Homo sapiens: one gene and its partner. The protein of the gene in region 2 interacts with the protein of the main gene of each other region in a biochemical or structural test. Each region holds a gene or a part of one and is shown on either strand. Other genes may lie near its edges.

Evidence for each region.
Region 1: the proteins of FBXO42 (region 2) and RBPJ form a complex in vitro, tested with the Homo sapiens proteins (one study listed by BioGRID).

What each region holds. Positions count from the first base shown.
Region 1 is NC_000004.12:26,419,524-26,435,423, reverse strand, and holds the end of RBPJ (recombining binding protein suppressor of hairless), read right to left. Parts: intron 14,874-15,900; coding exon 14,699-14,873; intron 11,083-14,698; coding exon 10,945-11,082; intron 10,794-10,944; coding exon 10,681-10,793; intron 6,705-10,680; coding exon 6,564-6,704; intron 5,527-6,563; coding exon 5,371-5,526; intron 5,006-5,370; coding exon 4,902-5,005; intron 4,733-4,901; coding exon 4,417-4,732; 3' UTR 501-4,416; downstream 1-500. UniProt on the Homo sapiens protein: Transcriptional regulator that plays a central role in Notch signaling, a signaling pathway involved in cell-cell communication that regulates a broad spectrum of cell-fate determinations.
Region 2 is NC_000001.11:16,308,915-16,325,404, forward strand, and holds part of FBXO42 (F-box only protein 42), read right to left. Parts: intron 7,814-16,490; exon of another isoform or gene 7,523-7,813; intron 6,522-7,522; 5' UTR 6,505-6,521; coding exon 6,255-6,504; intron 1-6,254. UniProt on the Homo sapiens protein: Substrate-recognition component of some SCF (SKP1-CUL1-F-box protein)-type E3 ubiquitin ligase complex. Specifically recognizes p53/TP53, promoting its ubiquitination and degradation.

The DNA of each region.
Region 1 (15,900 bases), on a different chromosome or scaffold from region 2:
GCACTCCAGCTCAGGGGCGACAGAGCAAGACCCCGTCTCAAAAAAAAAAACTTATGTAACTTCCCCATTTAACTTTGTTTCATATTAAAGAATACTATCCCCACTTCTAGGACCCACCCCCACCCCTCAAAGGCAAACGATTATGTGTTCCTTCCTATAGCAGACAAAATGACCATCTTATATTGGAAAAGTAAGTTATTGCTAAGTAATATTCTCAAATTTTGTTGCAATCAGCTTTAAATGATTCTGATTTGAGAGATATGACCCTTGAGTGACAAAGCCCATTTCACCATTTACACAGGGAAAAAAAATCTCTTTAAAGCACTATATAGTTAAAAACATTGACAAGGAAATTAAATTAGTAGAGCTATCACTTTGATGTGATGTACATGGTAAGATTGTAAATACACCAACTATAATATAGAATTTAATTTTATCTTTATGAAGTATTCTGAAATAAAAGACGATAATACATGCATCAGGCACATTCGACAGAAGACTTTTACAATGGTTTACATTTCCTTTTTATTTATTCCTTGAAACTGCTCGTATTGCAAGTTTTTCACGGATGAAATATGGAACTGAGCAGATTCTTTTTTTCTACAAAATTATGGTATAAACTTGCTCAATTTTCTATCTTATTGCTAATAAACCTTACAGGCGCACAGTTTGTAAAATAAACCCCTTAAGGACTGAATGCGTAGAGCATGCTGCAAGGTACAAGAAATAAGCTAAAAATGAGCATATAAACCTACATCTGGACCAACACAGTACTGAATGCTGGCAAACATTTATCACAACACAGGGGAAAATTAACAAAAGGAGATACAGTTCAGTCCTGAAAGGGTTAAACAGAAACCCTAATATATTATTGTTTCTAACCATCCATCCCACATTACAGTGCTTGAAAACAAAGTCATAAGTCTGGCACAGAAAATTACACACATTTGTTCAGTACTTATCAGAAACACAGCTGCTTTTGCAATCAAAGTAACTTGGTTACTAACTGAACAGCATTTTGTTTCAAAAGGAACCTCCTCCCCAGTGGATTTTCTGGTTAGCATGACTAGTTAGGTTAGTTCTCAAAAATGGCATTGGAAGTTTTTTGTGAAAGCACAGATGGTACCAGTTTCATTAAAAACAATAAAACAAAACAAAACAAAAAAACTAACCAGTTATGATTGCAGATAAGTCTGTGCAGTAAGAGTGACAAACATTTCACGATTAAGTCATGTATAAACATGCCTTTAATTGCCACAGTTTAAAGAAAGTGAGCAGCAAATTTAGATAGTATACTAGTGTTCAACGCTGAAATCACTCAAAATATAAAGGGCATTTTTAAGGCTTTTAGCTTGCCTTCCCAATCTATGTGATAAATTAAATGGAACAAATAAAAACATATTGGATCAGAGACTCAGCTTCTATGTGTATGTTTAGAAACTGCATAGTCATGAGAGCATAAGATACATTTCTAAAACAGAATTTTTTAAAAATTCAAACATACTATAACTGAAGCACTCACCATTCTAATAAGAGAGTCTTTCTGAGGGTAAATGACCAGCATGTCTAATAATGCCATCACTGGAGGAGGGCACACAGTCTACTATAACCAGAGGACAAGGTTCCTATAAATTACATACTGAAAATGATTCACAAAACCATGAAAGAAAAAATGTAAGCAGCTGACAAAAGAACTACTGATAAACAATAAGCTACAATGGACAAATCATTTCACTCTTTAGTCTGTGGTATGAGAATGGCCAAAAATAGGTGGGGAAAAATGCCTGTATAAGTACATTCTTGGACTTTTCAAAAAAAGAAAAGAAAAGGGTTTACAGTATAATATTTCAATTATCTTACGGAAAGAAACTATCAAAATAAAACATACATGTTTGTTAAAAAAACACAAGTTCATTTTAATAAGGTCATGAACTTGAAAAATTATTTTTGAGCTACAAAAATGGGTAAGGAATAGTTTGTTCTTCAAAAGTATCTCTTTTGTTATTGGTTAATTTAATATGATTCCTTAACTAAATACCAAACCTAGGAAGTGGAGGAAACTTGTGGCCGTTAAAGCAAAGCAGCACTAGGAACATGTCCATGCTCTGAACAAAAGCACTGTGTAATGATTCCTGCCATGACTCCATAGAGAGGAATAACTACTACTCAGAAATAAGTGGTCTGTAAGAAAGAGACAGTGAACAATTACAACAAAGAAAGATAAGGCCACAATGAGTTCTGCCCTTGATCACTGAAACAGATTTAAGGTGTGAGGCAGGATTAGCTTATAAGAGAGAAGTGAGTGATTGGAGCAGATTTGAAGAAAAAAGGCGATATAGAATAAAATGCAGCCTGGGGGTGATTAAAAAGGCTTGCAGTAAGAGAAAACCGCAATAACTGATTTAACCACCTAACGTGCTTTACAAATGACCTTCCCCTTGAAAACTGAGGAAAAGGCGATTTAAAGATGTTAGGAAGAATATTTACAGTGGCATAGTCTGAGCATAGAGTGAGTGATGAAGACAGCAAAGCTGGAAAAAAAATGCTACTAATAATAATTTCTAAAAAGTCTATTAATGGAAACTTTTTCAAAACAGCCCAGGACACCAGAAAGACAATGTTCTGTAGGGAAACACTGTAGGAAGTTACAGTTTTGCATTCATAAGGTACTGTGGCTCCTGTTTTATGGGACAGTAAAAGCTTACCACAATCTAGAGGTAGTTTTTACTCTAAGAGGGATGATTGTATTACTAGACTGTGTTGTATAACATTACACACGTGGTTCCTGTACTAAATGTAGCCCAATGAGTCTGCTGCAATTTCGAAGAAACCAAACAAAGGCATAAACAAAGTTCAGGAATGAAAGCACGGTAAAACCGGCGGGGTTAGCAAGCAAGGCCAACCTACAACCCTGAATGCAACCAAATCTCAACTGAAAAGAAAAGAAACATTTTCTGAGTTAGGAGACATTTGTGGAGATGCTCAGTACTGGAAAAGAGAAAACAAACAAACAAAAAAGGCAGAGAAAAAAATGAAAACATAAGTTACATTTGCATTTTATAATCTTACAACTATCTGTTTCTAAAGTACTGTCTTCCAGCTATTTTAGTTGATCATCTAATAAAAGCATCTTATGTTTTAAGATTACAATGATGTTCTGGCTAGGCTACCCCCTCCAACCCCCCAAAAAAGTAAAGATAATAAAACATGCTTTTGCGGACATTTTCCTCATTCTACCATTAAGGGCACCATCTACCAACTGGTAGCAAATACTTCCCATATTTTTTGTCACTTGCCAACAAGGCAGAAAATACCCTGCTGAATGAAATCACTGGGAACATTCCAAGTTCAAAATAAAATGTTTAACTTACACATAATACAAGTTATGTACAAGATTAGGAGGGGGGAAAAACCTGAACAAATCCTGGAACACACCTATGTATTTACGTCATGGGAAAAGGGGAGAGAACACTTCAAATATCAACAAGTTCTGCGCCATTAACTCATTAATAGCTAAATGGCCACACCAAATTGCATGTGAATGTTAGAACCTCTCAGATAACCACAATAAGTCCATATTTTTTTTTAAAAAAAGGAAAACACAGAAATAACTACCAACAGTGTCTGAGAAGAGAGACTAAGTTAACATACATTGCATGTATTGCAGGCAAGGCAGAGGCATTTTTTTAAAGCTTTTGCACAGACTTCATATAATCTTAAAAAAAATATGCAGGCCTTTGCAAGATTTGACTTGCTGAAATCCAAACAATTTTGACTCATGAAAAGTCATAAGACTTCAGCTGAAAAAAAAGAAAAAAGTTCCAGCCTTAGACCAAAAAAAAAAAACCTGGAAGAGTATGATAGATTAAACAAGGATGGTCAGGCTTGGAACCTGAATGTATTTTAGAGCAAAAGCTCAAAGGTGGGTGGGGAAGAGAACAACCTATTTGGTAACAAGGTGTACTATAATACCGTGATATAAAAAAAGGTATGGTGAAAATGTACCTTTTACTAAAGCTTATACAATATACAAGTTCCTTGGTCCATAAAAACTATGTTAGATTTGTGTCTTCTAGTTTGTTCAACTTGTATTCCAGCCACATTATTTACTTCTTGCCCATTTAAACAAAACCAAACAAAAACCAACCAACCAACCAACAAAACAGCTGAAAAACTTGATTTCCAATATTTATACATTTTGATTTTTTTTTCTTTTTTTTTTTTTTTTTTTTTTTTTTTACTGTGGCTTCTGCATTTCAAATCAGCACTTGCAGGGAGACAACGGGGTTTTTGAATAGTATCACCTGGTATGAAAAGTTTTCCCAAGAAACCACAAACGATTGTTCATTTTTTCTCCTTTTTTGTTAACTTTTTGCCACACTCAAGTCAGTTTAAGTCCTAGCAAAAAGACGGTAGTTAGGATACCACTGTGGCTGTAGATGATGTGACACTGGTTGAATTTGTGCTGGCGTTTGTGTAACTTCCCTCGCTGTTTGTGTTTGATTCGTTAGGGGGCACCTGGCTTGAATTGGCTCGAAGGATTGCTCCTGCTGCACTGCAATGTGGCCGCGGCCCTGGTTCTGGTGTGTAGGTAAAGGTAAGGCTGGTGGAATAAATGATTCCATCATTTCGGACCAAAGTTACTGGAACCTGGACTGGTTGCCGGACCCATCTCCAACCTTCTCGGAATGCAGAAATGTCTGGGACGACACAGAGCATACTCTCTCCACACCTGAGGAGGAAATAGAAATCACTTAAAAACACTTTAAAAAGCAAAGTACATGTTAAAAATGAGACTTAACACAAGGTTGTTTAATACATTACAATCAGTGCCAGGAAAGAATCTCCTGTACCCACACCCCTCACAACCTCTGGATGATGCAAAAAGTTTTATCAAGTACCTGTACATAGTTTCAGCTTCTACATCCCCAAACCACACTCGTAAATTTGGAGTGAAATTCTGTCCTGTAAGTTCAAGCATTGCTACGTCCCCACCGCCATTCAACTGCAATTCACAGAAAATCACAACACTGAGAAAACTTTTCATTTTTCATTAAAGTACACAAATTAGATTCTCATTCAACTTTCATTTGTTTTTTTTAAAAAAGGGCAATTAAAATGTTTTTTATTACAAAGCTAGCTAAAAACATTTCAAGATAACATACAAGTTTATTTACATTTAAATTTTCTGGCAAGTACGCTCCTCCTAATTTTGTTTTTTTTTCTTTAAATCAACAAATGGTGTATATAAAAATCCCCTAATCAGACGATTGGAGAAAAATCAAAACTCCCATGAAATGAAATGATGCCAGGTCACAGCTGAGAGTAGCTGCAAAGAGCTGAAGGCCAACTTGGACTAGGCGTTCTCACCTGAAGGCTCTCTACCACAGGCACAGGAGTGACTGGGGCAAGGACAGGGCCCATTCCCTCATAAAATGTATACTCTGCCTTATCTGTGCTAATGATTGTCCAGGAAGCGCCATCATTTATCATCTCTTTATTTGGTTCTTTTGGACATGGAGTGGCCTAATAAAGAAAGAAGTTTAGAAACTAAGTTTTATACAGTTTGTATTAATAGGATAAGAAAATTTTACCAAGTAACCCTCAGACAAGAGTTAATAAGAAGATAACTCAGTAAAAACTTATAAACTTTCTAAAGTATGGTGCTTTGCCAATCCCTACATAAACACAAACAGAATGCTAATACAGAAACCCCATAGACAGCAGTTTTTCTTATAATACAAACTATTTCAGTGACATATTAAATAATAATACCTTTCAGAACAACCATTATGAGTATACCAATGCAGGTACAATTTCATTAACAGCAGATCAATATCTGTGATGTAAATGGCTGTTTAAAACTCTTCAAGGACTCCTAAGAAAGACAATGGGACTCCTCATGCTTAGGCAACAGCTAGAAGCTTATGCATGTTCCATGGGAGGGAATCAAGATGGGAAGGCAAAGCCCCTACCCCTACCTTAACACACCTAGACCAGGGACTCAGCATGCCCATCAGTGTGTATGGGCATCTCTCTGCAAAGGAGTTTCACATGAAACCATAACTGTCTTATTAAATCATCTGCCCATGTCATAACCTCATGAAAGCCTTCTGAGTAAATGTAAAACATTAGCTTTCAAAGCATGTCATCATTACTATCTTCGGAAACCACGACATAAATCTGATGAGATTTTGAGCCTTCACCCAGAAAAATGCTTTGTCTATACAATGTTTGCACACAATTTCAGAGGATTCAATGAGCACTGAAAATCTATTTTTGGATATCCTGAGGGGCTCTTTGTTCTTCAATTAAGAACCCTGGAACTAGATGTTAACTGTTTTCTCTGAGAACATTTTCATAATTTTGAGTTCTTCCTTGAGGAAGGATTGCTTGCATGTCTGAGGATTGTGTGTTAAGGATGCTCATACCTGAGATAAATATCTGTGTATAGCTTCATGTATTTGTATATAATTAACAGCAAATGAAAATTTCATATTTTTGCAAGCTGCTAACCTCACAGTTTGTACATTTTAGATTTCACCAGTAATTTAAAAACATACCTGAAATTGAATTATTCTTTCTTGAGAAAGGCACAAATACATTCTTTCTGTATCCTTAAGGTAAAATGCACATTTATGGAGTTGTGACACAGGATCATCTGCATCCAATAATGCGGTCTGCTTATCAACTTTCCTAATTATCTATATTTAACAATTAAGAAATAAAAGGTCATCCACACATGGAAAGGATTTTCCTTGTGTAAAACATCAAAAGTACATAGAAGCTATATACTGCATAATAATACATCACAGTTATTTGTCCTATGCCTACATATATAAAAACATTCACAAACAAAAAGACTAGGAATAAAAAACACTTTTAGATTGCAAGCATGTCAGAATGTAGAAACTGTTACCCTCTTCCCTGAACATCTAAAAAAAAAAAATCAGGCAGGCAGGCACTTGTTTTCTAGATCAGTGTTTTTCAAACATTAATGTGCACATAAATGAGCTGGGGTTCTTGTGAAAAACACAGGTTCTGATCTAGCAGGACTCTTGTGGGGCCTGATATTCTGCATTTCTAACAAAATCCCAGTTGATGTTAATGCTGCTGGCCTACAGACCATATTTTGAACAGCAAGTTCTAATGATATTTTCCAATAATATGCATAAAATGACAAATACTCCAACATCAAAGGGAAAAATCTCTAGAAGGCTACTGTCAGTGCAAACGTCTTATATCTATTATCCAAAACTTACGTATTTAAAAACATAACAAAATCAAACTCATTTTACAGATTACAAAATGGGCTTAGAAAGGTCAGACAAATTGCTCAAAATTACCAGTTTAGTAGCTGAAGGACCAGAATATGTCCTGATCCCAGGGCTGGCTGCCTGTCCAACTGATCTCTAAAGCTTATAACGCAACTAGTCTACAAAACACATGAATATCTGAAAGATAATACTATCAAACCCTATATGACACTTGACACCTAGAAGGTAATGGCTAAGTAGATGATCATGATGAAGAGCAAAATTTGACACAGAACTTTTACTCTGTTTCCTTTTCTATTGATCACTTCCAACAACATACAAACATAACTATCTCTCATCTCAAAATCAAAAGTAAAGAAAACACTGACTACATGCTCCTGTCCCTCCCTCTCACTACCTGTTTTTCTGCAAACGCCTCTTCCTCACTGTCCAATCTCCTGCAATCTCTCCAACCTTTTATCTCAAAGACGCCACTACAACTGCTTTTCAAAGCCACCAAGGATTTCCAGACAGATGCATCTCACGGCACTTTTCTGTCCTCATTTTACTTCATTTTCTCAGAAGCTCTCAACACATTTTGCTTTCAGGACCACAACTGCTCCAACTGACCTTTAAAATGCCCAGAGCTGAGTTCTCAGCCCTCTTTTCCTCTCTTTATAATCTATACTGTTTAAAAATTTAAAGGTTGACAACTCCCAAATTTATTATCTCCAGACTTCTCTCCTGCATTCAACTTGTATGTACACTTAACTACCTATTCAACATTTCCACTTACGATGTCTAACAGGCACCTCAAGCTTAGCATATCGAAAACAGATTTTTGGATTTCCTCCTAAACTTGATCCTTCCCCAACTCATCTAGGTCAATAAATGGCACTAGCATTCACTCAATCCAAAAACCTTAAGAGTCACCCTTGATGCCTTGCTTTCTCTCACACCCAACCATCCAATCTGCCAGCAAATTCTGTCAGGTCCACTTTCCAACAAATCAGTCACCCCTCACCACCTTAATACTATGATCCTGGGTCTAAGATAGCATCAACTCTTGCCTCAATTATGACAACAATCCAAGCACCTGTCTCTCTGCTTCCACGGCCGCATTGCTATGCTCTCTTCTCCACACAGCAGCCACACATATACTTCTAAACAAAAATAGGCCATCGTGCCCCGTTTAAAATCCTCCAGTGGCCTTCTAACATGCAGAGATAATATGAAGTCCTTACCCTAGATACAGAGAGGGATCCTACAAGGTCTTGCTTAGTGCTAACCTTACAGATTCAGTTCCTGCCACTTGACCTCTCCTCCCTCCGCTCCAGCTCCACTGGTTTCTTTACTAGTCATCATACATCCCCTGCCTTCAGTTCTGTACTTGTTCTGTTTGCCTGAAATGCTCCTCACTCAATTACCGGTTCTTTGACTTCATTCTGGGCTCTCTTCAAATACTGCGACTTCAAAAAGACTTCCCTGACCTCTCTAAGCGCTCCTCCAATTCTCTATCCCTTTATTATCTTGTTTTGTTTTTTCATCACTACATAAATCCTTTACATGGGTATTTGGCTTATCACTCTATCAAAATGTAAACTCAATGACGAGAGGCACTCGACTTTGCATGTCAGAATTCCTGTCATGAAACCCCTGGAAAGATTTATGTATCAGCGTCTTAATAATGGTACTGCAACTTTTTCTAATAAGTTAATTTTTCATTGCAACATTTTTATATAAAGCCATACAGTTTTGAGTGTAAAAACCTCAATTAATGACTTTCAAGCAAGGCAGGCTACTGGTACTTTACAAACAACTGTAAATGAAAACATTGTTTTAAATTTGGGTCTGTCTTCTAAGTGGTTTGTATTATAAACTATTGGTGATCAGAATCATCCTCCTAAGTTGTGCTTCTGCAGTACAAGCATTTAACACCAAAGCAAATGAACATCATCCTTGGAACAGAGGAAATGAATGAGAAGAGAAAAAAAATGAATAAATGCTGATTCAGATTTTTTGCTTGCTTCTGTCTCCTGCTCTGTTTTTCATGCCCTTCATTCCCTAACGTTACCCTTTTTATTATAATTTGTCTCAGCTGCAAAGCTTTACAGATTACTATTACTATACTTCATGTCTTCTAGCTTATTGCATTGACATGGGAAATAAAATCACCTTGTACAATCATGACAGAGGGTAAAAAAAAAAAACAGTAACAAAGAAATGAATCACTGGCTTAGAAAACTGTAGATCAAACCAGCCTCTGCTGAAATGACCCCAGAAAATATAAGCCAGTGGAATATTGCACCAAAAAGATAAATAGGAGGCATGTTTAGGAACATTAATACTAAATGTTCTTCTACTCACCCAACCTCTTCAGTCTGACCTTGAATCAAACTTACTCATAAATCCCCTTCATCTTGAATATAAGTAAATTATATTGTTTGAGAAAAGGAGAGGGAAAATTGGGAGGGTGGTGGCACTATAGAGGACTTTTGTTTTCATTTTACTAACAAAAGTAGTTTTTACAATTTCAAGATCTCCTTTTCTGTGGTTGTTGAGATAGGATCTCATTCTGTTGCCCAGGCTAAAGTCCAGTGGTACGATCACCGCTCATTGCAGCCTTGACCTCCCGAGCTCAAGTGATCCTCCCACTTAAGCTTGAGACTACAGGTGTGCACCACCATGCCTGGCTAATTTTTTTTTTGGGGGGGCGGGGTCAGTGGTAAAGACGGTCTGACCATGTTGCCAGGACTAGTCTCGAACTCCTGAGCTCAAGTGATGCCAGGGCTAGTCACTTCTCCTTCTCCTGCCTTCACCTGTTGAAGTGCTGGGATTGCAGGTGTGAGTCACCATGCGTGGCCGAGTTTCAATGTCTTCTATTGAACAAAAGCCCTAAATCCTATGCCCTGCTCCCAGTTAGAAATACCAATTTTATTTCAGTTTTAATAAATCTATCTTCTTGTGAGAGAGTAAGCTAACAAAAATTACGCTTATATTTCAAAAGAAATAAGAATGTCTTCTGTTTGCAAACTTGGTCCTACATTGGGATATGGCAGGTACCACAAAAAAATGAATACGGTTTATCCGCATTAGTAAAGAAAAGAAATGTAATTTATAGTGCCCTCTACTGAACATCTTCAGATAAACAGCCAAAAAGGAAATTGCCACCAAAATATATTGGAAATCATTTAAGAAAAAATCATTAAGAATGTACTTGTAAAAACTGGCTATTACCTTAAAGCATTTCTGAAATAAGGTAGAGCATAACTGTCAATTATAAACAGCACTGATTACTAACATACCTTTTAAAATTAAAAAGCATAAAACTGAGGTGTGTTTTTCCATTTGAATGTTGTGATTTTCCTGTTTAAGAAATTAATTTTTACTTCACATTATCACTAAAGCAAAAGTAGAGCCATACCAATCTTGGGAGTGCCATGCCAGTAACTGAGCACACAAGTTTGACTGTTTGTCCATAATGGATGTAGCCATCTCGGACTGTGAATTCTTCTCCTTCTGATTCATCATCATCCACTGCAGTAGGTGGAAAAATAAATCAAATTGTCATCTTTTTAAATTTATTTTATGATTAGGCAAATGACAAAACTTAATATATCCATGTATCTCATCAAAAGATTTTAACAATTTCACACTAAAAACATTAAATGCACACTTTTATACTCACAGAGATGAATAAAAAAGGCTCCCCACTGCTGTGAACTGGCATGAAAATTACCTCCTTCTACATGCAAGTATCTGGTACTAACTGTCTGGGATCGTAGTCGATTAAACAGAGCCACCTTTGTTCCTGAGGCAATGCATACTGCAAAGAAAAAACAGCTCTTATTTATGTGATTGGAGCAGAAGGTGGGGAGGGAGCAAAAGAAGGAAATTCTGCTTGGCAGTGTATAATTATTCTTTCTTATCATTTAACAGTTTGACAAATATTTTCACTTTCCAAGACAGTACAGATGATATCAAAAAGTCAAGGTAACTGTTATTAATAATGTCAAGCTAATGATATCAAATGTCCATAAAAATAATTTTAAAGTGAAAGCTACACAGTATGTTTAATGTGGTGCTGATTATTAGAGAAAAACTTACTTTTAAAATAATGTTAGACAGTAGAAATTTAAATGATGACCTATTGAAAGGATGTGTATCTAAACACACTGATAAGAAAATATTTTCCTGGAATATCACTGAATGGAAAAGCAGACTATAAAATACTCTGTATGCTGTGGTTCCATTAGGCAAATGTATATATTTTTAATATGTGTTTGCATCCAATTCCACAGAATACATGCATAGAAAAGGGACCAGAAGGATGTTTGTCAGAGTTGATGGTAAATGCCTCTGCATACTGTGATTTCAGAAAATTCTGCTTTCTTCTAAATAAAGTATTGTATGAAATTTCTTGAAAATAAATCCATGTAAGCAGAAAAACATTCTGAAAGTGAAATATGTTCTCTGCCATCAAGAAACTAATATTCAGTACAAACACAAAGTTAAAGCAGTTACATAAAACTGTGTAATCTGAAATGCAAATAGCCTGAATACAAGACATAATATACCTCCTAGTGCAAGAGAGCACACCACCACCTTTGAAGCAGGTCTTGCTTTTCAGAAAGAAAACAAGAACCAAAGGACAACAAACTTAAATCTGATCACCATTCTACACTAAAGATTCTCTCCTTGACCATACTTTTAAGCAGGCTGCTCTGAGCAATCAACTAGTATTTGTCCTTGAGCCCCGTCATCAGTCTGTTTAGCTCAGTTATATATAGTAAGAATCCTCCTAAACTATCTCCCACTCTGGATCTATGATCACCTTGGCCTGCCTTTAGCAGGAATCCTAAGTCAGGTCAGAAAGAAACCTTCTACCTTTGATGTCTCCTTTTAGAAAGTTTCCATCCATTGACCCTCTCACTCTGCTTCATCCCCAAGTGTCTTTGTTGTATTCTGAAATGGAACTTGGTTCTATTTTCCCCTATTGCAATAGTACTGAATGAAATCTGTCTTTCCAACTAGGCCCACGCTCTATTTCTTTTTGACTCTACCAATTTACAGAAAATACATTAAACTATACCAAATAAATGAAATCAGCAAAATCTAGTACGTGGAAATCTCTAGTGACTAAATGTTTCAACTTACTTAAATAAATTGCAAGAGTTGAGGGGGTGTCCATAGATTATACTCAAGGACATATCACAATATAAACTGTACTAAGTGGTAGATCTGAATTTTGATTCAAGCAATCTGATTTTTAAAATATTTTAGACCATTTTAAATTTGAACACTGATTGGATATGCATCAAACTAAAATAAGGGCAGAAGAAAGTGGGGCTGGAGTACAGGTATAGATGAAGATAAGATTGGTTGAATGTTAAGATCACTGTTGACGTTAGAGAATGAACATAAGAGGTTTCACTGTATGGTGCAACTCTGTCTACTTGAGAGTGTTTGAAATTTTTCCGTAATAAAAACTAAGTGATATTAGTGGACTGAGTGGACTAAAATATAACCAATACAAAACAACAACAATAACAACAACCACAACAAAAACCATGATCTCATAATAAAACAAAATGAAAAGAAAGCAAACAAAACAAAAACCCTAAAACCCCACTGGTCACTTTCAAGGAATGTTATTATTCTGCAAATGAGTAAACAAGCACCTAATCCTGCCTTTTCATTACATATTACAATTGAAGCAAATAGCTGATATGGCAAAGTCCCTCTTTGTAGAAAAAACTCCAGCTAACGAATGCAGAAGTTAGAATTTAAAAAATTAGAATATCACCATTTTGCAGCATTTAATGAAATGGATTTAAACATCATCAATGACTATTAAAACCATTAGGTTAAAGTTTGCTGAGGAACTTTATGGGTGGAATAGACTTACAACAGCTGAACTACTATAATCAATCTCAACATGACCAAAAAAAAAAAAGGGGATAATCAGATATTATGACTTCCAATCCAATGGAAATAAATGTATATCTTACCAATCAGTTCTGAAAGTCTTTATGTCTAACCACCAGTTCATGGAAAGTAAGAGAGACAGAGAAACATATAATCAGCCAAACCCAGAATATGGAATTCCACAACAGGAAAAATGATCCAGTTTCTTCAACAAATAAATGACATAGAAGGAAAACAAAGGTGAGAGAGGGTGAGAAGAAACTATTACAGACTAAAATGTGTGGACCTTATCTGAATCCATGTTTGAACAAACCACTGTAAAACAAAACAAAGCAAAAAAACTATAAAAAGACATTCTGGGTCAATCTGATAAATCTGTACATGAAATAGGATATTAGATGACACTTAAGAGCTGCTGTCAACTGTTACGTATAATGATGTTTCAAAAAAAAGGGCATGTATTAGTCACTATTGCAGAAATTTTGGTTGAAAGGATAGGATGAGATTTACATTAAAATACTCCAGCAATTAGAAGACGAAGAGGTGTTGGTGGTGATGGAGATAATGAAACAGAATTGATAAAACCTGTTGAGGCTGGGTGGCTAATTTCTCCCTTTTATATAAATTTGAAAGTCTCAGCCAGGCATGGTGGCTCACGCCTGCAATCCCAACACTTTGGGAGGTCGAGGTGGGTGGATCACCTGAGGTCAGGAGTTCAAGACCAGCCTGGCCAAATGGCGAAACCTCATCTCTACTAAAAAATACAAAATCAGCCGGGCGTGATGGTGGGCACCTGTAATCCCAGCTACTCAGGAGGCTGAGGCAGGGAGGATTGGTTGAACCCGGGAGGTGGAGGTTGCAGTGAGCTGAGATCCTGCCACTGCACTCCAGCCTGGGCGACAGAGTAAGAGTCCATCTCAAAAAAAAAAAGAAAAGTCTCCATAATAAAAAGTTAAAAAAAGAAAAATGGGTGTGGAGGTTAAATTTATAATTCAAACATACTTGTTTGGTAGTCTAAAAATAGGCTGATGAGACAGCAGTCTCTGCCAGAGCAACCACATTAAAAATTGTGTTTAGATTCTCAGGAAGGCCTGCCAAAGCCCATTTAGTTGGTAGCGTTTTTCAAAGGGGTACTTGTTGACATTGTGGGTAGATCAATTCTTTGTGGAATGGGAACTACCTTGGACACTGCAGGACATTCAATTCAGCACCACAGGCTCAAGACACCCAAAGCCAACATCACCCCCTCCAGTCACTGTAACAACAGAAGGAGAAAATCTCCCATTTCCCCAGAATGTCCCTGGGAGCATTAAGGAACCAACTCTGGTTAAGAACTGCTTCATTAGACCACATACTGTCGATTTACGATTAAAAAAAGAGAGACAATAAAGAGGGCCACAAAAATATTAGTAAAGAATTAATTGGCTATTGAAAAGGCAATTTTTAATTTAAAAAAGAGTCTGTCTTATTAATTCATGGTGGCAGTTGGGGATAAATAAGAAAAGCATACATACAGTCAGCATTTTTCAATGACTGCTTCTTTTTGGAAGGTTTGGAGATGACTTTTATCCGCTTGCTGAGGAACACACCAATGTCATCACTGTTGCCATAGAACATCTTTACAGACAACATGAAGTGCTTTCGCTTGTCTGAGTCAGATATATACAATGTTTTGGCTGTGCAATAGTTCTGTGAAAGAAAAGTAAAGTTTTAACAGCAGCAAAACCTTGTTTGTTTATGTAGTACCTAAAACTCAGAATGGCCATGGTTTAAGTAATAAGTAAAACAATTCCAAGGGATAGCTGATAAAACCAACTCTAAAAATTATCAACTATAAAAATTACTGAAATTGATTTCGGAAAAGTACAAAGTCTTCCTTATAAAGTCTGTAGAACACAAACATTGTCATCTATTGTATCCTCTTTAAAAGACCATTTAAAAAAACAGCCTTTTCTTGTTTTACATAGCTCTACAACTGTATCATGGAATTATCACTCAACGTTACAGCAGTAACTTTTAAAATAAATTTTACAGTTAAAAAAAATCAATGACTTTCTCCAAAAAAAAAATAATAATAAAGCTATCAGAATTCAAGAAATTATGTAAAAGATTTTAGCAGTAGTTCTTCTCAAAATAGTGCATAAAATATTTTTCTTTATATAGCTGAACACTAGAGTAATCACTTATAAGATTGAGGAAAACAATGATAGACAAACTGGATGATTATAAAATATCTTAAACCAGAAAGAGATTATATAAGCATTACTTTAAAGAACTATTTTTAAAATGGTTAACTTTGCCCAAAAGGACGATTCATATGTATCACCAGAAGAACTGAATTTAAAGGTACTAGAGAAAATGCTCAAGGCATTATGTCAGTTTACCAGAATTTAAATTCTGATAACTGAAAAGATAAAGAGATATAGCACTTTACAAACAGCAAAGACCCTTCAAAATGCTACTGCTTATATTATATATAACAATTCTAAAATCTTTCCTATTCTCTTGATCCCTGTGAATCAGGGAGGGGTCTAAATTATTGTCCTTTTCCAGATAAGATAAATGATGCTGAAACACAGCATAAGTATCTAAAGTATCGAATTATATTTTTTAAAGGATCAACATTCCACTTTAAAATTAAGCTAAACAAGTTTCTTCAACTGCCTCTCCTGTATCTTCCTTTTAAAAAGCAGAGCAAATGCTACTCAGGAAACAG
Region 2 (16,490 bases):
GCATTTTTAGTAGAGACGGGGTTTCACCATGTTGGCCAAGCTGGTCTCAAACTCCTGATCTCAAGTGATCCGCCCACCTCGGCCTCCCAAAATGCTGGGATTACAGGCGTGAGCCACCATGCCAGGCCGGGAGACCCCATCTCTTTTTTTTTTTTTTTTTTTTTTTTTTTTGAGACAGAGTGTCACTCTGTCACCTAGGCTGGAGTGCTGTGGCGCGATCTTGGCTTACTGCAACCTCCAACTCCCAGATTCAAGCGATTCTCCTGCCTCAGACTTCCAAGTAGCTGGGATTACAGGCACGCGCCACCATACCCAGCTAATTTTTTTTTTCTTTTTGTATTTTTAGTAGAGATGGGGTTTCACCACGTTGGCCAGGATGGTCTCAATCTCTTGACCTCATGATCCACCCACCTTGGCCTCCCAAAGTGCTGGGATTATAGGCATGAGCCACCGCGCCTGGCCAACCCCATCTCTTAAAGAAAAAAACCTTTTCCAAAAATGATGCTGAAATAAATTAAAATCTACATGCAAGAAAATGAATCTAGACATCTTCCATGAAAATGAACTAAAAATGAATCACAATCCTAAATGTAAAACATAAAACTCCTCGAAGATAACAGGAGAAAATCTAGAAGACCTTGACTTTGGGGATGACTTTTTATACACAGTACCAAAGGCATGATCCATGAAAGAAAGAATGGCCAGGCATGGTAGCTCACGCCTGTAATCCCAACACTTTGGGAGGCCAAGGTGGGAGGATAACTTGAGCCCAGGAGTTCAAGACCAGCCTGGGCAACACAAGGAGACCCTGTCTCGACAAAGTATTTTTTAAAACATTAGCCGGGTGTGGCCGGGTGCAGTGGCTCACACCTGTAATCCGAGCATTTTGGGAGGCCGAGGTGGGTGATCACTTGAAGTCAGGAGTTTGAGACCAGCCTGGTCAACATGGTAAAACCTACTCTACTAAAAAAGGTTTTGTTCTTACTAAAAACAAAAATTGGCCGAGCGCAGTGGCTCACGCCTGTAATCCCAGCACTTTGGGAGGCCAAGGCAGGCAGATCACAAGGTCAGGAGATCGAGACCATCCTGGCTAACACAGTGAAACCCCGTCTCTACTAAAAATAGAAAAAATTAGCCGGGTGTGGTGGTGGATGCCTGTAGTCCCAGCTACTCGGGAGGCTGAGGCAGGAGAATGGCGTGAACCCGGGAGAGGAGCTTGCAGTGAGCCGAGATCACACCACTGCACTCCAGCCTGGGCAACAGAGCAAGACTCCATCTCAAAAAAAAAAAAAAAAAATTAGCCGGGCGTAGTAGCATGCACCTGTAATCCCAGCTACTTGGGAGGTGGAAGCAGGAGAATTCCTTGAACCCAGGAGGTGGAGGTTGCAATGAGCTGAGACTGCGCCACTGAACTCCAGCCTGGGTGATGGAGTGAGGTTCCATCTGAAAAAAAAAAAGAAAAACAAATTAGCTGGGTATGGTGGCATGTGCTTGTAGTGCCAGCTATTTGGGAAGCTGAATTTGGAGGATTGCTTGAGCCTGGGAGGTTGAGTCTGCAGTGAGCCCTGATCACGCCACTAGACTCCAGCGTGGGTGACAAAGCAAGACCTTATCCCCTCCCCAAAATAACTGATAAGCCAGAATTCATTAAAACTAAAAGTTTCTGCTCTGTGAAAAATACTGTCAAGGGAATGAGAAGATAAGCCACAGACTGAGAGAAAGTATTTGCAAAAGACATATCTGATAAAAGACAGTTATATAGAATATCCAAAGAACTCTTAAAACTCAACAATATTAGGGCCAGGCGCGGTGGCTCACGTCTGTAATCCTAGCACTTTGGGCAGGTGCTCAAATAAATTAAATATTATTTATTTATTTATTTGGTGGATCACTTGACATCAGGAGTTCAAGACCAGCCTGGCCAACACAGTGAAACCCTGTCTCTGCTAAAAATACAAAAATTGCCAGGAAATTGCTTGAACCCAGAAGGTGGAGGTTGCAGTGAGCCAATATTGTGCCACTGCACTCCAGCCTGGGCAACAGAGCCGGACTCCATCTCAAAACAAACAAACAAACAAACAAAAAAACTCAACATTAATAAACAAACAACCCAATTAAAAAATGGGTCAACGCCGGGCACGGTGGCTCACGCCTGTAATCCCAACACTTTGGGGAATGGCATGAACCCAGGAGGCGGAGCTTGCAATAAGCCGAGATCGCGCCCCTGCACTCCAGCCTGGGCGACAGAGTGAGACTCCGTCTCAAAAAAAAAAAAAGGGGGTCAAAGGCCTGGCATGGTGGCTCATAATCCCAGGACTTTAGCAGGCCCAGGTGGTAAGATTGCTTGAGCCCAAGAGTTCAGGACCAGCATGAGCAACACAGTGAGACCCCATCTCTACAAAAATAAATAAATAAATACAAAAATTAGCTGGGTGTGGTGGTACACACTTGTAGTCCCAGCCACTTGGGAGGCTGAGGCGAGAGGATTGCTTGAGTCCAGGAAGTCAAGGCCGCAATGAGCTATGACCATGCCACTGTGCTCCAACATGGGTGACAGAGCAAGATCTTGTCTCAAAAAAAAAAAAAAAAATATATATATATATATATATATATACATATGTATATATAAAATAAAAAATGGGTCAAAGACCTGAAACAGACACTTCACCAAAGAAGGTATGTGGGTAACACATAAGCGCATGAAAATACGCTCCATATCATTTGTCATCAGGGAAATGCAAATTAAAATGAGATACCACTACACATCTATGAGAATGATGAAAATTCCAACTACTACTACAAATGCTGGTGAGAATGTGGAGCAAAAGGAACTCTCATTCACTGCTAGTGGGAGTACAAAATGGTTCAGCCACTTAAAACAGTTTGGCAGTTCCTTACAAAACTAACGATGCTCTTACCATATGATCCAGCAATTGTGCATCTTGGTATTTATTTACCCAAAGGAGCTGAAAACTTATGTCCACAGAAACACCTGCACATGGATGCTTACACCAGCTTTATTAATAATTGTAAAATCTTGGAAGCAACTAAGATGCCCTTTCAGTAAGTGAATGGGTAAACAAACTGTGGTGCATCTAGACATGAAATATTACTCAGCACTAACAAAAAAAAAGCTAAGAAATCATGAAAAGAAATGGAGGAAGCCGGGCACGGTGGCTCACACCTGTAATCCCAGCATTTTTGGAAGCTGAGGCAGGAAAATCATTTGAGCTTAGGAGTTTCACACCAGTCTAGGTAACAGCAAGATCCTGTCTCTATAAACATTTTTTTAAAAAAATTACACAGGCATGGTGGTGCACACCTGTGGTCCCAGCTATTCTGGTGGCTGAGGAGGGAAGATGACTTGAGCCCGGGAGACGGAGGTTGCAGTGAGCCAAAATCGCACCAATGCACTCCAGCCTGGGCAACAGAGCATGACTCTGTCTCAAAAAATAAGGAGGAAACTTAAATGCAAATATTACTAAGTGAAAGAAACCAATCGGAAAAGGCTGTATACTGTATGATTCCAACTATATGACCTTCTAGAAAAGGCAAAACTATGGAGACAGTAAAAAAATCAGTGATTGCCAGTGGTTGGTGGAAGGAAAGGATAAACAGGGAGAGTATACAGGATTTTTAGGGCAGTGAAGCTATTATGATATTATAACAGTGGATATGTGTCATTATACATTCATCCAAACCCATAGAATGCACAACACCAAGCATGAACATTAATGTAAACTATGGAATTTGGGTTTATGGAATGTTTCAGTATAGGTTCATCAATTTTAACACATGTACCACTCTGGTGGGGGATGTTGATAATGGGAGAGGCTATACATGTGTCAGGGTAGGGGATATATGAGAAATCGGTTTTGTTTTGCTTTTTTTTTTTTTTGAGACAGAATCTCTGTCTGTCATCCAGACTCGAGTGCAGTGGCTCGATCTTGGCACACTGCAACCTCTGCCTCCCAGGTTTGAACGTTTCTCCTGCCTCAGCCTCCCGAGTAGCTAGGACTACAGGCACCCACCACCATGCCTCACTAATTTTTGTATTTTTAGTAGAGATGAGGTTTCACCATGTTGACCAGGCTGGTCTTGAACTCTTGATCTCAGGCGATCCGCCCACGTTGGCCTCCCAAAGTGCTGGGATTACAGGCGTGTTCCACTGTGTCCGCTCAGAGGAATTTGTTTCTCCTACTCAATTTTGCTGTGAACCTAAAAGTGCTCTTTAAAAAAAAAGTCTACTAAAATTAAAAACAAACAAACAAAACTATCTTGTCAGTGACTTCTGCCAGAAAGATCGATCTAAGATTGTGAGTACTAGGGTAGGGTTCTTCTCTAAATAAAAATAAAAAAAAAAGAAAGAAAAGAAGAAAGAGAGAGAAAGAAAGAAAGAGAAAAGAAAACAAAGAAAGAAAGAAAGAAAGAAAGAAAGAAAGAAAGAAAGAAAGAAAGAGAAAAGAAAGAAAACCAAAATAAGACTGCCAAAGAAAACCTAAGGATAAATTCATATATTTGATTAAATCACAGTCCCTTACCTGTGGTTTTCCTCCCTTTATTTGAGAAGTGAAACCATGTATTTCCACATTGCAGGGAGCCAATCTCTCCTGAAGAGCCCATCAACTCAGAATATAGAAGCAGGCTGTGTGTGCCAGTATTGGCAGTTATAATCAAATGAGCACAGGGCCAACAGAGCAGTTTCAATACAGCTGGTTCTTAGCCCTCTAGGTGGACTTTGGGAGTTGACAAGGACTCCATGAGAACCACCTTGATGCAAGGAAAACATTTTAAAACTGATTGATTTTGATCTAAAGATTGTTCTCTGTTATATCTCTGGCTGCCTTGTTCCCCCAGGAAAGAACACATTGAGACAACCCTCGCTTGATAAAAAATGACTCCACTTGATTGATCATCTTCAAACAAAAAATGGGCCCTTTCCACTTAAGATGCAATGAAGCCACTAACTGCTTTCTGCTAATTAAAAATACAGCATGTCTAGCACCTAAACATTTAGCAAAAAGTTGAAATCTTGATTAGGAAAAGGATGAAAAAAAGGACCAGAGTCTTGCTCTGTCGCCCAGGCTGGAGTCCAGTGGCGTGATCTTGGCTCACTGCAACCTCTGCCTCCTGGGTTCAAGCAATTCTCTTGCCTCAGCCTCCCGAGTAGCTGGGATTAGGTGCCCACCACCACACCTGGCTTATTTTTGTATTTTTAGTAGAGACAGGGTTTCACCATGTTGGCCAGGCTGGTCTCGAACTTGACCTCAGGTGACCCACCTGCCTTGGCCTCGCAAAGTGCTGGGATTACTGGTGTGAGCCACCACACCCGGCCAAGAAACATATTTTAAAAAGTAAAAGATGTATATAGGGTCTTTGCTGTTTAGAGATAAAATCAAGTGACAAATGTTTTCAAGAAAGCAGTTGCTAAAAGTAGCTACTCAGAGACAATCTGTAGCCTTAATAAGAGCATGGACTTTAAAGCCAGATCGCCTGAACGTGAATCTTTAATCCTGCATTTACTATCCGTGTAAATAAGTTAACTGTGTTTCACTCAGTTCTGTCATCTATAAAATGCAGGATCTTCTAGTCAGAGTTTGCTGTGAGAATGTAAAGCAGTTACAATAGTGCTTGACACGTGATAAAAGCTATGTTCACATTGGCTATTACTATTATCCCATATCCATTTCTATTTTGCCCATTCAAGAACAATACAATTAATCCATTTGGGACGCTGAGGCGGGCGGATCACGAGGTCAGGAGATTGAGACTATTCTGGCTAACACAGTGAAACCCCGTCTCTAGTAAAAATACAAAAAATCAGCCGGGCGTGGTGGCAGGCGCCTGTAGTCCCAGCTACTCTGGAGGCTGAGGCAGGTGAATAACATGACCCCGGGAGGCAGAGCTTGCAGTGAGCCGAGATTGCGCCACTGCACTCCAGCCTGGGCGACAGAGTGAGACTCCGTCTGAAAAAAAAAAAAAGAAAAGAACAATACAATTAACCAGATCAACTCTAAGAATATGAAGCTTTTAAAAACAATCCTCATTTTAAAATGCAAATGGGATTAGATACTTCAGTATTCAAGCTGTTCATTAAACTAACCAGGGTAAGAAAGAAAACCGGGTAGTATCGTCTAATGCTAGATTTTATAACCATAATACATTTAAGGGAGGAAAAAAACTAAATTTGGAGTCTAAAAATAAATCAGTGAAATTTGAAATCAATAAATAAACCTTTCTCCTATCCACAGTACCTTTGATAAGTCGATACCACTGTTTGCAGACAAGGGCCGCAGTTTTGTGTTCCTGATACGGTGAGAGAAAGGACAGGATATACTCCAAAACCTCTTCTGGCAGCTCCGACATGGACCTATTATGTCTAGTCTCCTCAGCCTCCAATACTGGGTGGGGCTCCTCATCTTGATCCATTGTCCCTTCCAGCACAGTTTCTTCCTGGTCCACAGCCATGAAACTGTCATCTTCACTGTCCGAGGAGCTGGCCATGACATTCCACTCAACAGCTGTAATAGGTAAAACATAAATATCAGTATTCCACTGAAAGCAGCTCAAAAACAATTCAGGCATGTACATCCAAGCTCTTTGTAATTTCGTTTCCACTCTCAGTGTGAAATCTGCTCTTCAGCACTTTCCAATACCACTTGTGAGCCACCTTAATTCGACAGGTACAGCTCAAATACCAAGCCCATCCCCAAAGGCTTTTGATTACATTTTTTCTCTTCACTGAAAACCAGAGTGGCAGCCAAGTTCTGGTATAATCGTAAACCAGAAAACTTGTTCTCCAACAATTCTTCTAACTCAAGGATCTGACTGACCGACAGCAAAGGGAAGAGCAACTAGCCTCCTTGGCCAGTAACAATGATCTAAGACCTCAAATTTTGAAGGAAAAACTAACTCTGGGTCTTGCAAAAAGTAATAACATTCTGAGAATATGGGTTAAGAAATAACCGTTTTTCGACCAGGCATGGTGGCTCAAACCTGTAATCCCAGCACTTTGGGAGACCGAGGCGGGCAGATCACCTGAAGTTGGGAGTTTGAGACCAGCCTGACAAACATGGAGAAACCCCGTCTCTACTAAAAATTGAAAATTAGCTGGGCATGGTGGCACATGCCTGTAATCCCAGCTACTCGGGAGGCTGAGGCAGGAGAATCACTTGAACCTGGGAGGCAGAGTTGCAGTGAGCCGAGATCATGCCACTGCACTCCAGCCTGGGCAACAAGAGCAAACCTCCATCTCAAAAAAAAAAAAAAAAAAGAAAGAAAGAAAAGAAAGAACAGTTTTTCTAAACTTTTATGCAAGACGATTCACTTAACCTTTTTCCTGTTTGCCCGGAGAATACTTGCCAGCGGTGCCTGCAACTGTGGTGTTTACCCCGAGATAACTTTGCCACAAAATATCTCTTTTGTTACTGTTTTCACATCGCTCTAGTACATCAACTTTAGAAACAAAAGACATCATTCTATTTATAGCATTCTGTTTTTAATAGTGGTTATTTCCACTTACAAAATATAGTAGTTCTTGGTTGGGTGCAGTGGCTCACACCTGTAGTCCCAGCACTTTGGGATTCTGAGGCCGGCAGATCACCTTAGGTCAGGAGTTCGAGACCAGCGTGGGCAACATGGCGAAATCCCATCTCTACTAAAATACAAAAATTAGCCAGGTGTAGTGGCGCGTGCCTGTAATCCCAGCTACTCAGGAGGCTGAGGCAGGAGAACTGCTTGAACCTGGGAGACAGAGGTTGCAGTGAGTCGAGATCATGCCACTGCACTCCAGCCTGGGACACAGAGAAAGACTCTCAAAAAAAAAAAAAAAAAAAAAAAAGATAGTAAATGTTCCAAGAATAGACTTCACTTGCTAAAATACCAAATACAAGGCAGTATTTACAATAGAAAATATGAATCATTAAGAGATCCAGGCAGTAAAAAACTAGAACAACATGAATGTCTATCAACAACAGAGCAAATAAATTGTGGTACATTCGCCATGAAATATAGAGCAAAGAACCACAGGTTATATACATATAAATAAATCTCTCAAACATAATGTTAAGCAAAAGAAGATAGAAGGCCGGATGCAGTGGCTCACGCCTGTAATCCCAACACTTTGGGAGGCTGAGGCGGGCGGATCACCTGAGGTCAGGAGTTCAAAACCAGCCTGACCAACATGGTGAAACTCCGTCTCTACTAAAAAATACAAAAATTAGGCCGGGCGCAGTGGCTCACACCCGTAATCCCAGCACTTTGGGAGGCTAAGGTAGGCAGATCATCTGAGGTCAGGAGTTCAAGACCAGCCTGGCCAACACAGTGAAACTCCATCTCTACTAAAAATGCAAAAATTAGCTGGGCGTGGTAGCGTATGCCTGCAGTCCCAGCTACTAGGGAGGTTAAGGCATGAAAATCACTTGAACCCAGGAGGTGGAGGTTGCAGTGAGCAGAGATCACTCCGCACTCCAGCCTGGGCAATAGAGTGAGATCGTCTCAACAAACAAACAAACAAACAAAAATCCAAAACTTAGCCAGGCTTGGTGATGCATGTGCCTGTAATCCCAGTTACTTGGGAGGATGAGGCAGGAGAATCACTTGAACCTGGGATGCAGAGGTTGCAGTTAGCCAAGACTGGCCACTGCACTCCAGCCTAGACAATACAGCAAGACTCCATCTCAAACAAGCAAACAAACAAACAAACAAACAAACAGAAGACAGAAGAATGGGCAGGCACAGTGGCTCATGCCTATAATCCCAACACTTTAGTAAGCCAAAACAGGAGGATCATTTGAGGTCAGGAATTTGAGACCAGCCTGGGCAACAAAGTGAGACACCATCTCTACAAAAAAATAATTAACCGGGTGTGCTGGCACACATCTGTGGTCCCAGCTACCCAGGAGGCTGAGCAGGAGGATCACTTGAGCCCAAGAGTTTGAGGCTACAGGAAGCCATGACCACACCACTGGACTCCAGCCTGGGCAACCGAGTTAGACCATGTCTCGAAGAAAAAAAAAAAAAGAAGAAGAAGAATATATACTATACGATTACAATTATATCAAGTTCAAAACGAGGCAAAATTTATGCTGTTACAAGTGAGGTATCTGAGGTACTAGTAAAGTTCTGTTTCCTGATTGGGTACTGGTTACACAGATGTTTTTTGTTTGTAAAAAATTTACTGAGCTGAATACTCACGCACTTCTCTAAAGTTTGTCAAAATACTGGCCGGGTGCAGTGGCTCATGCTGTAATCCCAGAACTTTGGGAGGCCTAGGCGGGTGGATCACCTGAGGTCAAGAGTTCGAGACCAGCATGGCCAGCATGGTGAAACCCGTCTCTACTAAAAACACAAAAATTAGTTGGGTGTGGTGGCACACACCTGTAATCCCAGCTACTCGGGAGGCTGAGGCAGGAGAATCGCTTGAACCCAGGAGGCAGACGTTGCAGTGAGCTGAGGTCGCTCCACTGCACTCCAGCCTGGGCGACAGAGCAAGACTCCGTCTTAAATAAATAAATAAAGTTGCCAAAATAAGCCATTATCAGCAGTTACTTCTAGTGGGAATATTATTAATAATTTTAAAAATGTCTTGCTTCTGCTTATCTGTATTTCCTAAATTTTCTACAAAGAAAGCATACACATAGAGGCAGGCATCTCATTTATACTCCTATGACATTATACACAAAGTCTGAGGTAAAACCAGTAAAATGAAGGAAATAGGGTGTTTTATGTAAGAACTGTGTTGCAGATTAGATTCTCCAGGAAGCAGATGCTAGACAGAATTCAGAATGGAAAAAGTTTAATGGGAAGTAACTTCTGGAAGAAGTGCAGAAGCAGCAGGATTGGGCAAGAGGAGCCATCAGACCACAATGCAGACCTGACAAAGCCTGTCCAACAGAGAGCTCGGGAGCAAAGACGGCCACTCAGGGGAATCTAGTACTGGGCAGAAAGGGCAAGGCTCTAAATCACTGCTTCGCTCAACCACTGGCAGAAGGCTCCAAAGCTGAGGCAGACCCTAAAGGAGCTAACAGCTTCAGCCAGCCTCCTTACAGATGGACAGTAAGTCCTTTTGAAGGGATAATTTTATTATTTTTTAATACATTTATTTCTCTTGCTCCACACACTCTACCCAGACCATTTACTATGCCACCCCACTTTACAAATTTCCAGCATTCCCTCTAGCACTGATGAAAGGAAGAATAAGAAGGGTCTTCCCAAAATTGGGAAAAGCTGGATTTGGCGGGGGGTGGGGAAGGAAACGAAGAGTAATCTCGAAATATACTTTGGGGCTTTGAGAAAGATCTGAAATGTTCCAAAAAGTGACAGACCGGGGAGAGCAGAGAACAGAAACCTCCTACCTCATCTCTACCACTGCAGTAATTCATGCACTAATTATGTGTAACATCTTTTAAAACTGGAAGAATCACATTAAGGAAAATGAAAACATGAACTCATAAAATTGCTTCCCAGATAATTTATCTACCAAACTGGCTGAAAGCTTATGATACTACAAATGTTTCCTAGCAAAGTGGCTATTAGAATCTTAGTGATAATCAGCAAATTGGTGGCTACTTGGAAGGACTGGAGTGGCTTAAGTCCACCTGGTGGTATGGGGGAAAGGCACTGACAGTGAGAAAGGAGCAATTCCCTTCATTCCCCAAAAGCAGAGAAGAGTATTATAATGGGTTTCCTGAAAACTGTATTAGAAAAAGGATCCTAGGCCAGGTGTGGTGGCTCACGCCTGTAATCCCAGCACTTTGGGAAGCTTAGGCAGGCGGATCACGAGCTCGGGAGTTCGAGACCAGCCTGGCCAATATGGTGAAACTCCGTCTCTACTAAAAATACAAAAATTAGCCGGGCATGGTGCCGTGCACCTGTAGTCCCAGCTACTCGGGAGGCTAAGGCAGGAGAATCACTTGAACCTGGGAGGCAGAGGTTGCAGTGAGCCGAGATTGCGCCACTGCCCTCTAGCCTGGGCAACAGAGTGAGACTCCATCTTAAAAAAAAAAAGAAAAAGAAAAAGAAAAAGGATCCTAGATAGTTATGCCTCTTTCCATGCTCACGTGGGTAAGGTGTTTTTCAACATGACTGACTCGCTAGAGGGAGGCCTTTCAAACAACAGAGACCTCCATTTCCAGCCCAAATTCCTATCCTAAAACGTACAGTCGCCGAGCATGGTGGCTCACGCGTGTAATCCCAGCACTCTGGAAGGCCAAGGCAGGCAGATCACCTGAGGTCAGGAGTTCAAGACCAGCCTGGCTAACATGGTGAAACCCCGTCTCTACTAAAAATACAAAAAACTAGCTGGGCGTGGTGGCACATGCCTGTAATCCCAGCTACTCGGGAGGCTGAGGCAGGAGAATCACTTGAACTGGAGAGGTGGAAGTTGCAGTAAGCCGAGATCATGCCACCGCACTCTAGCCTGGGCAACAAGAGCAAACTCCATGTCAAAAAAAAAAAAAAAAAAATCAAACCATGCCTTTTATTACTGGAAAAAATATCACTTCCCATAGTCCCTCTTACTTGTTCCCTTATATATTATCATTTCCTACTGGCTAACTTCACTGATTTATTAACTTTCATATATATTTTTTGTTTTATTATTTTTTTGAGATAGGGTCTCACTCTGTCACCCAGGCTGGAGTGAAGTGGCACGATCTGAGCTCACTGCAACCTCTGCCTCCCAGGTTCAAGTGATTCTCCCACCTCAGCCTCCCAAGTAGCTGGCGCACATCACTATGCCCAGCTAATTTTTTTTTTTTTTGAGATGGGAGTCTCGCTCTGTGCCCCAGACTGGAGTGCAGTGGCATGATCAAATTTTTGTATTTTTGGTAGAAACAGGGTTTCACCATGTTAGCCAGGCTGGTCTCAAACTCCCGACCTCAAGTAATCCACCGTGCCCAGCCTAACTTTCTTATATTTTTAACCTCCACTCAGCTCTAAATTCACCAAGGAAAAGAGCCCAAAGAAATGGATTCCTTGACTTTGGCTGCATGGTTGACATTTAAATTAAATAGTTGCTCCCTTGCACAACATTTTGACAGACTATAAGCCTAAGGTCTGTTGCAGAACAAAATGAATCAATGGAGGCTGCAAAAGTTTATTTACATTACTATTTTTCCCAATCAGAATAAATTTGATTCAATAAAACAACTCATTCTCTTTCCAAATTGTCTTAAAATACAATAGCAAGCCAACATAAAGAGACTCATACTGCTGTAATAGCCAATGTCAAGCAATTTCCACCATTCAACTGTTACACCCTCCACAAAAACATCAAACCCCATACCTTTGAGGGCATGTTTGCTAACTTGGCCCTAGCCACAGATGCCAAGGAGAACACACATGGGTGAGCTCAGATGCAATTCCTCTGTAATTACATGCCCAACACCAATTTGCATAGCCCTTCTTTTTCACTTCCATGATTAGGTAATAAAATCATCACTCATATTCCCCCAAGGATATAGAGGCATTTTGAAACTCTGAGTTTTTCTTGTTTTCATGCCAAAAGAAGCCCTACAAACTTTTCACACGTAAGCATACTAACTCAATGAATGTAATTTTCATGAAACTGTTTAAAAGAAGTCCTTCTCACCCTTCACATTTGTGTTACACCTTCTCAGCTTCCCCAACGTGACTGAATGAATGTACTGGAATCTGAACTCCCTGGAGGCAGGACCATTGGCCTAGGCATCTTTGTCTTCTTAGTACTAGGCATTCAAATGAGTGTAAGGTTTATTGACATGTCTACTCAGAACACCTTTGTGCTGAGCTCGCAAGGGTTTTTTTTTTTTTTTTAAAGATAGGGTTCTGCTCTGTCGCCCAGGCTAGAGTGCAGTGGCACAATTATAGTTCACTGCAGCCTTGAACTCCTAGGCTCAAGTGATCCTCCTGTCCCAATGTTCCAAAGTGCTGGGAATACAGGTATAAGTCACTGTGCCCAGTAGTTATTTTATAATAGAAATTACATCATTAGGCCAGGCGTGGTGGCTCACGCCTGTAATCCCAGCAATTTGGGAGTCCGAGGTGGGTGGATCACCTGAGGACGGGAGCTCAAGACCAGCCTAGCCAACATGGCGAAACCCTGTCTCTACTAAAAACACCAAAAATTAGTCAGGCGTGGTGGCAGGCGCCTGTAATCCCAGCTACCTGGGACATGTAAAAAAAATTACATCATTAGTATATCCAGAAAATGGTAGATCCTACCTTTATATGTTACTAGATGTTGTCAAAATATTTTATTGGTCAGAATTAATACAAATCTCTGGTTTATGGAATTTTGTACCTTTTAAGGTATATATACTGGCCTGAGAGTCTGCTGCCAGAGAGGAAACTATTTATTTGGCCCAGTAGTATCTTTTTCTTCCGAAAAACTACTATACTAGGCCAGGCGTGATGGCTCACACCTGTAATCCCAGCACTTTGGGAGGCTGAGGTGGGTGGATCATGAGGTCAGGAGTTCAAGACCAGCCTGACCAACATGGGGAAACCCCGTCTCTACTAAAAATACAAAAATTAGCTGGGCGTGCAGGCGCATGCCTGTAATCCCAGCTACTCAGGAGGCTGAGGCAGGAGAATTGCTTGAACCTGGGAGGCGGAGGTTGCAGTGAGCTGAGATCGCACCACTGTACTCCAGCCTGGGCAACAGAGCGAGACTCTGTCTCAAAATACAAAAAAAATTTTAAAAACTAAAAAAAAAACTATGCTACATATAACTAAACACAAATCAGTTTCTAAAGTCTGAATGCCTTACCCTTCTGAGGTATAAATTAAGGTTAAGATTTTGAGACTGGAAGATGTGGCCACTGTTTCTAGCTTTAATGCTGTGAAACCTAGCATAAGTCACACAGAGTAAGAAACAAAAACCTCCCTAAGTAATGAAAGTTCCCCACTTACTTCAGGAAGATTTTGTAAAGATAGTAGATATCAAGAAACTACTCTGAATTCATTGGAGAAAATCCGTAACCTAGAAAGAATCAACTCAAAAGAATTTCAACATGGGAATGAAACTGCTATGCATTTAAAAGCCATTGCCAGATTTGAGGGCAATATTTGATTAGTTTTTTGCCTTTGGTTTCTATTCAACTAGACATCTGACAATCCTCTTGTGGTAAACACATCTTTATTAAAGTTGGAATACACTTCATTTACCTAAAAGGAAGCTGAACATTTAAAATGCAATCAAACGTATTTGTCACAAATTCAAAAGGTTAAAAAATGTAATTGGCCAGGCACAGTGGCTCACGCCTGTAATCCCAGCACTTTGGGAGGCCAAGGCGGAGGAATCACAAGGTCAGGAGTTTGAGACCAGCCTGGCCAACATGGTGAAACCCCATCTCTACTAAAAATACAAAAAATTAGCTGGGCGTGGTGGTGGGCACCTGTAATCCCAGCTACTCGGGAGGCTGAGGCCAGAGAATCGCTTGAACCTGGGAGGCAGAGGTTGCAGTAAGCCAAGATCGTGCCACTGTACTCCAGCCCAGGTGACAGTGCGAGACTCCGTCTCAAAAACAAACAAACAAACAAAAAAAGTAATTAAGGGAACTTCTTACCGATAGATAATAAAATAAAGGACTGAGACCTAACTAAAGAATAAGGGACAGGGCCGGGCGCAGTGGCTCACGCCTGTAATCCCAGCACTTTGGGAGGCTGAGGTGCGCGGATCTTTTGAGGTCAGGAGTTCGAGACCAGCCTGGCCAATATGGTGAGACCCCTACTAAAAACAAAAATTAGCCAGGCGTGGTGGTGTGCACCTGTAATCCCAGCTACTTAGGAGGCTGAGGCAGGAGAATCCCTTGAACCCAGGAGGCGGAGATTGCAGTGAGCCGAGATCGTACCACTGCACTCCAAGGTGGGTGAGGTGACAAAGCAAGACTCTGTCTCAAAAAAAAAAAAAAAAAAAAAAAAGAATAAGGGACAAGAAGGAGGAGCAGAGAAAAATAAAAAGAAGAAGGGACTGGACTGAATGGAGGAACCCACAGTCATCCCACAGCATGAGGGCTTCTGAGGCTTTAGGGACAAAGCAGCAACCCTGAACAGATGTCATTATGAACTCATAAAGTGAACCACTTCAGCAGCACTAATGTAGGCTAAGTACTAAATGCTACTCTTGAAAATATACTGTTGAATGAGAGATTTAAAGAAGATCATAAAGTGATTCAATCTAAGACAATAAGCCTTCTTATGAATATACCACGGTTATCATTTTATCAACTCAAATGAAAAAGTTATAGAAAGTAGAAAAAGGATAAAATAAAAAATTCTACCTTACTCCGTGCATTCAACAAATATCAATGAAACATTTGCTATATGTAAAAATACCGTGCTTATTGCAAGCTTGACTGCTATCAAATATTAAAAACACAAAAAGAAAAAATATATTATGCTTAGATCCCACACAGGGTACAAAAAGAAGATATGTCACTATTTGCTGTCAAACAGATGGACCCACTAAGGGCCAAGGACACATAAATTAATAATACCAACACAGAACATTATATAATAAATGACCTATGAGACAAAACAAGAAGCCTTAACAGTTCAAGAAAGAAAGAGATGGCTTCTAACTAGTATAAGGAAGGTTCACAGACAAGCATTTCAGCTGAGCTCTAAAGACTAGGTAGAAGCCAAGTGTGGTGACTCATGCCTGTAATCCAAGCACTTTGGGAAGCCAAAGCAGGCAGAAAACTTGAGTCCAGGAATTTGAGACCAGCCTGGGCAACATGACAAAACCCTTCTCTACAAAAAATACAAAAATTAGTTGGCCATGGTGGCGCACACCTGTAGTCCCAGCTACAGGGGGTCTGAGGTGCGAGCATCGCTTGAGCCCAGGAGTTAGATGCTGCAGTGAGCCAAGATCGCGCAACTACACTCTAGCCTGGGTGACACAGCAAGACTCCGTTTCAAAAAATCAAAAAACAACAACAAAAATAAAGAAGAGGTAGAATTTCAGAGAATAAAATTGGGGAAGGTGAAGGGATTAAACATTGTCAAATTATTGTAACTTAAACTGATATCCTTTGCCACTTACAGAATTACCTTTAGAGCTGGGTGCAGTGGCTCACACCAGTAAACCCAACACTTTGAGAGGCCAAAACAGGCAGATTGCTTGAGCCCAGGAGTTCGTGACCAGCCAAAGCAACAAAGTGAGACCCTGTCTCTATAAAAAATACACAAGTTAGCCAGGCATGGTAGTGCAAACCTGTTGTCCCAGCTACTTGGGAGGCTGAGGTGGGAGGATCTCTTGAGCCCGAGAGGTGGAGGCTGCAGTGAGCCAATATCATGCCACTGCACTCCAGCTTGGGCAACAGAGCAAGACTCTGTCCCAAAACAACAACAACAAAACAGAATTACCTTTAAGACAAAACAAAACTAAACTAAAAAACACATTTTTTACCCAATTGTTTTTAAGTACACAGTTTAATATTTTAAATTCTACATTAACGAAGCATATAATCTAGAGACTCCTTATTATTGACAGTCTATGTTTTGAC